Linked DNA regions of Homo sapiens. The protein of the gene in region 2 purifies or fractionates together with the protein of the main gene of each other region. This does not show direct contact. Each region holds a gene or a part of one and is shown on either strand. Other genes may lie near its edges.

What was found. The genes of interacting proteins can lie anywhere in the genome.
Region 1: the proteins of CELF4 (region 2) and MSI2 purify together in Homo sapiens (affinity purification with mass spectrometry, with the first as the bait; one large-scale study listed by BioGRID). This does not show direct contact.

The regions. Positions count from the first base shown.
Region 1 is NC_000017.11:57,679,380-57,682,371, reverse strand, and holds part of MSI2 (RNA-binding protein Musashi homolog 2), read right to left. Parts: intron 2,824-2,992; coding exon of another isoform or gene 2,782-2,823; 3' UTR 1-2,781.
Region 2 is NC_000018.10:37,245,079-37,247,866, reverse strand, and holds part of CELF4 (CUGBP Elav-like family member 4), read left to right. Parts: intron 1-596; coding exon of another isoform or gene 597-650; exon of another isoform or gene 651-2,669; coding exon of another isoform or gene 2,670-2,696; 3' UTR 2,697-2,788. UniProt on the Homo sapiens protein: RNA-binding protein implicated in the regulation of pre-mRNA alternative splicing. Mediates exon inclusion and/or exclusion in pre-mRNA that are subject to tissue-specific and developmentally regulated alternative splicing.

The DNA of each region.
Region 1 (2,992 bases), on a different chromosome or scaffold from region 2:
GCATTAGCATTTAAGGTAGTATGGCACCCCTTCACAGTGGGTGGGGGGGGGGGGATCTACAAAACGCCGTAGAGTCCGCCGGCATTTTAACATGGTGAGACCTTGGGTTAGTTGAAACCACATCAGATCAGCTAAAATAAAATTAAACTTGAAATTGAAAAAAATAATTAAAGGAAAAAACTGCCCCAAAATTATTAGCATTTTTTTTCATAAATAAGAGAAAGTTCTATCCTTACTGGTCCTAAATCTGAATAACTATGTCTAATTTTTTTTAAACCTTAATTATGTTATACCTATCAATATGTACTAGAAGAAAGAGGAGAAAAAAAGTCGCTACACTAGTACCAGGACAGCACGCTTACAAGATAGCCATTTTATACATTATTAACATACAATGATCAACAAAGAGTCTTCTATGAGGTGATGGGGGATGCAGAGAAAAGGAAGGGAAGTACAGTACATCACCAACATGGACAAAATAGGAATTAAATTCCCTCGTCTAAACACTGAATTTCTGGGAATTTACTATTTTTTCTTTCTTTTTTTTTTTTTAAATAAAACTTATGTTTTGTTGTTTTATGACTTGAACAAGTTTTGATATTTTAAAAGCGCTCAGCATTTAATCTGGTTGTTTGGGGGAAAAGAAAAGAAACAAAGAAAGGAAAAAAACAACAAAAAAACCTCACCAAACAACCTAACATTTTATTAGAAAAACAAAGAACATGATTTTTTTTTTAATTAAAAAAAATGTTGTTGCTGTTTCATTAGAATTGAAAACGGGTTTTTTCTTTCTTTCTGAGTTAGCATTTTGGAGTCTTTAGTTTGAAGATGCTTTTGCCCTACCATGTCTGTGAATGTCTACATTAGTCTACTTTGTTAGTAAAATTTATAAAAATAGGAGTGCAGCAGCTCTTTATAATAAATGTCGCATTCAGTGTCTCATACTGGCTGTGCCTTAAGTACCAAATTTATAAACGTAACAATTTAAAAAATATTAATAAAACGTCAATATCACATTTTAAAAAAGAAAAAATATATATCCACACTACAATATGTTTTAATGCCATCTATTGAGTTGTACTTCTATAGTTGCTGTTGCCGACCTATTACCAATATTTAAAAAAAAGTTAAATTAAAAAATATCCTTCATCATAAGTATCTTTCCCCAACCGAGGACCATATATTATAACAGCCAAATGTTAAACATGTGCAAAGAGGAAACTGTCAGTTTTTCCCACCAGTCACAGTGCAGTGATGTTTATACTTTTTATTTTTAAAATTCTGTTTACATCTACAATAAATTAAAAAAAAATTCTTCCATAGCCTCTCTGGTGATACTTGCAGCACTGAGGTATTAAAAAAAATATATATAAACCAAAAGGTTGCTTTCCTAATTTGTAAATAGAAAGTGAATGGAGAAAGGTTGTATTAATGCAGGCTTATCCACTCCTGGCCCATGGGCCCCCAGATGTGGGAGCAGGGTGGGGGGCAGGGGGAGAAGAGAGGCAAAGTGTCCTAGGGACCTTTGGAGGTGCTGAAATGATTGGACAATAGAAAATGATCAAATATTTAAAAATTAAGACTGAAAAAGAATGTCCCCCCCACCCCACCCCCACCCAAGCCAAACAGGTGTGCTTTGAAACTTTAAATATGTTAAATATTAAAATTGTAGCTTTGTTTTTAAAAAACATCTTGGGAAAAGCAGTTTTTCATATTTTAAATAAAAATCTAACTAGACGGTAACATTTGAAGCTGTGCACAGACAAGAGGTTAATAGGCTGGTACAACACTAATACAGTTCTTAGGTCTATCACACAGACAAAGGAGCTAAACAGTGCTCTAACTTGTCCTGGGGTGGTCCTGGCAGCTGGGCGATCTTCATCTCAGTAACTGACTTGGCCAACGTTCCCTTCCCGCCTCCTTCCACAGAGCATCAAACTGCCTGGGACCGACTCCCTCACAAAAATATTTTTGATTCTCTCTTTCTTAATAGTTTCTATGTAGTTAATGGAATTGTATTTACAACATTTCTTTTTTAGAATTCACAATTTCAAAAAACCTTATAATATCACCTCTTTCAACAGAAAAAAAGCACTTATAGAAAAGGAGGACACTCAAAACACTGTCGTCCTTACCTTATTGCCGAAAATAGATAGACTCAGATTAACAAAGAGACATCACAAAAAGAACTGCTAGAAAGTCTGTTAATTAGCTTACTACATCTCACTTCTTCTACAACGCAAAATAGAAAGCTCACGCCCACCTCCCGCCCTGCACTTCACAACTTTGCTTCAGTGTGTGCTAAAGTTCCACCTGAAAATTCATACAGTCTCAGAATTGGTACCAAAATATGGAGAGTCATATTACCATCTCAGCATCCTTTAAAAGTGAGAACAGAACCAAAACAAGCAAAAAAAAATGTTTTAAGAAAAAATAACTCCTTAATATAACAATTATACTATGGTTAGCTTTGAACTAGATATTAAAGCTATGTGACTACTGGACTAAGTCAAAATCACTACCAAATGTGATTCAAAGAGATTTAAAAGGAGAATGGGAAGAGAGGGAGGGAGAGGGAAACCATCAAGAAAAACAAAACAAAACAAAACCGAAATCATGGGTTATATACACATTTAAAAGCTGTTGTCTTATATTACAGCAGATTCGTGAGATGATGAGATGTAGTCAACCCTCGATCCGAAGTGAGCCATCTCTGGTTGGGATGGGGAGTGAGGCTGGTGGGGGTCCAGGTCTGAGGACATCACCTAAACAAAGGGCCACTCAGAAACTTCGCCCAGTCTTGCCTGGACATCCAGGTATGCTCTGCAGGGCAGGGAAGGCCAGGATGTCCAGAAGAAAACATAAAATGGAGGGGAGAGGGGAGGAGAAAGAAGTGTCAGACAAGTATGCGATTTCCTCCACTGTTTTAACTAGAGTTTCAAAGATGGACTTCACTGGACTATTGAATACGCACGAGAATCACCTGGCTAGA
Region 2 (2,788 bases):
GAAAAGCAGAGCGCCTGCTCCCTGAGATTGCTTGCTGGCCAAGGTGGTTTGAGGGGCTGTTTTATTTTTTTTCTGGCCCCCTTGCCAAACCGCCCATGCCCCCCTCCCCAACGCATGATGGATGCCCTTAGTGGCCCTGTGTGAGGTTCTGCTTCTGTTCACAGTGTATCATGTGTCTGCATAAACAACCGTGTGTGTGTATGTGTGTATGTGTGTGCGTGCGTGTGTGTGTGCGTGTGTGTGTGTTGATGTGCCCATGTTTGTCTGCTGGCTTCCTCCATCCTTTGAGTTCTTTTCAGTTCTCTTATGATTTGACTGCTGTTCTCTCATCAGAGCTTCTAGATTGATGCTGTGGTCTGGTGCTGTATAAATATATTTTCTTTTTAATTTTGTTTTAACTTCTTCCTTGCCCTCCTTCACCCAAATCCCAGCCCTCCCTGCCCTCCCACACTCCCCAACCCCACCTGCCCTGCCCCACCTCTTCCTTCCCCCACCCACACTCTCTTGTCCTCTCTCTCTCTCTCTCTACATATATAAATATATATATAAATCTTTTCTTCTTTTGTCATTCAATCAAATTCCAACAACCCAACCAGGGCCAGTCAAATCCACCACAGTCTCGCGCTGAGCTAGGAATAAAGTTCACGTAATCACATGAGAGTGGAGAAAAGTCCCCCATCCGTAAGTTCAAATCAACTCAAAGTTCACAGTGTGACATGATGGCGTCATGTAACAAGGCTAAGAATCGGTTGCATGACAATTGCCGTCAAGTTTCGTGGAGGTGCTGTGATTGGAGCGTTTTTCTTGGATGTTGTATCAGTTGATGATTGGCCAGTCATGATCACACGTGCATTTTCTTGACTTTTGTGCTGCCACAATCTTTTTTGCTGTGCTCATTTTCGTTTCGTTCTTGGTGCTTGCAGTGGTTTTACTTTCTGTTGTTTGGTTTTTCTTGTTCAGCGTTTTTTTATGCTTCTCTAGATGTCACATAGAGAAAAAAACAAAACAAAAGAACAAAAAATAGTCAAAATAAAGATGAATTCCTGAATTATCAAACATGGGATCATTTACCTGTGCAAACCATTATTTTTTTCTTAAAAATAAGGAAAACATCTTAAAAATATCTATGCGTGGTTGATTTACTTGCACTTGAAAATATTGTGATTTTATTTTTTTCTAGAAATTTGGGGGCCTTTTTCAATTGACACTTTCCTAGGTCTGGTCTTTTTCCAGTTAGGCTATTTTCAATCTCACTTCAAAGGGAAAAAAAACAAAAACAAAAAAACAAAAACAAAATATCTACAGTAACAGAATGATAAAAAAATTCTAAACCAAAAAACTAGAGTACAAAGCCAGAGGCCTCTGCAAGAGAGCCCGGTAACAATTGTAAGGTTTGTATTGTAACCACTTCTGCTAAATTAAATGTGGGGAGGGGAGGCTGGGGACTGGGGGCTCGGGAGGGTTTTTTTTGGTTGGTTTGGAAGAAACAGTACTAACAAAAGCAAAATGCACCTTTTTGTTTACAACTGAAAAAGGGTCCTTGACAAGTGTTTTTTAATTTTATTATTATTTTATTTGGTGTTGTAATTGTTTAGACTGCTGTGTACGGTTTGCTGTTTGTTGAATCAACAGTGTGAAAAACCTGCCAGCATGGATTGATATACGCATGACGTTGTCCCCTCAAGTGGGGGCTTTGCAGTTCTAACTTTCTTGATGTAACCAGTCACCCCCATGTATAAGTGGAAGCTGCTTGCTAGAATGGAGATGAGTCTCATTTGTTAATTCACAATGATTAAGCATTCGCCTTCTGATTCTAGTCAGATCATGATTTTTTTAAAGCAAAACAAAACACCAAAAAGCCACCATTCAAAACAAAATCAAGCACTGTCTGAGTTAATTTATTTAAGTTTGATAATTAAATCTCTTCTGACCTTTTTTAGGTTTTCCCATCCACTCCCTTGAAGTTCTGAATTCCTCTAAATTCCCTGGCATGTATGAGAAAAGTATTATGTGTGTGTATGTGTGTATATATGCATATACATACACACATATCCATGTATATCCACATATGTGCAGGTGAATATATTCTACACATATATCCAGATATACATATATATACACAGCCTCGCAAATAGTTACTGACCCCGGGAAAGAAGTGGTTGGCTGGAAGCTGGGCAAGGATTCTACAAAATTTGAGTCACGGATGTGTCTTCCTTCTTTCCCTTGAGCTGGGAGGAGTGGGCTGGGCTGCTAGATTTTTCCTATCTTGTTTGCTAGGCTTCTGTATACATATTGTATCTGGGCTAGATCCCTCAGAGACAAGTTTAATTATGAATTCATATCCCGCAGTCCCAAATTCTCCCCTTAGATGTAGCTACCCCCAATCCAGAATGCTAAAGTAACCCAAATCAAGAACCTTCTCCCAACAACGAAACCTCAGCTACAACCATCACCACTAGACCTCCCAGTGGTTTCTACTCTGAATAGAAGAGTATATTTCTTTTTAATGTATCATGATCATGACTAATTCTCATACTGGTCTCTCTTCCTTCCCTCCCACCATCCCCTAGAGCTCCCATCCTAGCCCCTGAGGCAGGTTCCTATTGGTGTTTGGATGCTGTTTGTGTTTTCCCTCTTGGCTTAATCAGCCCTGATTTTCTTCATTTTAGGGCAGGATGCTGAACGGGCTACATTAAAAAACAAACCTCTCTCTATATATATTTATAAATGAGAACTGTTGGATGACACCTTTGACATATCAGCCAATATCAATCAAGCTGAAGACTCC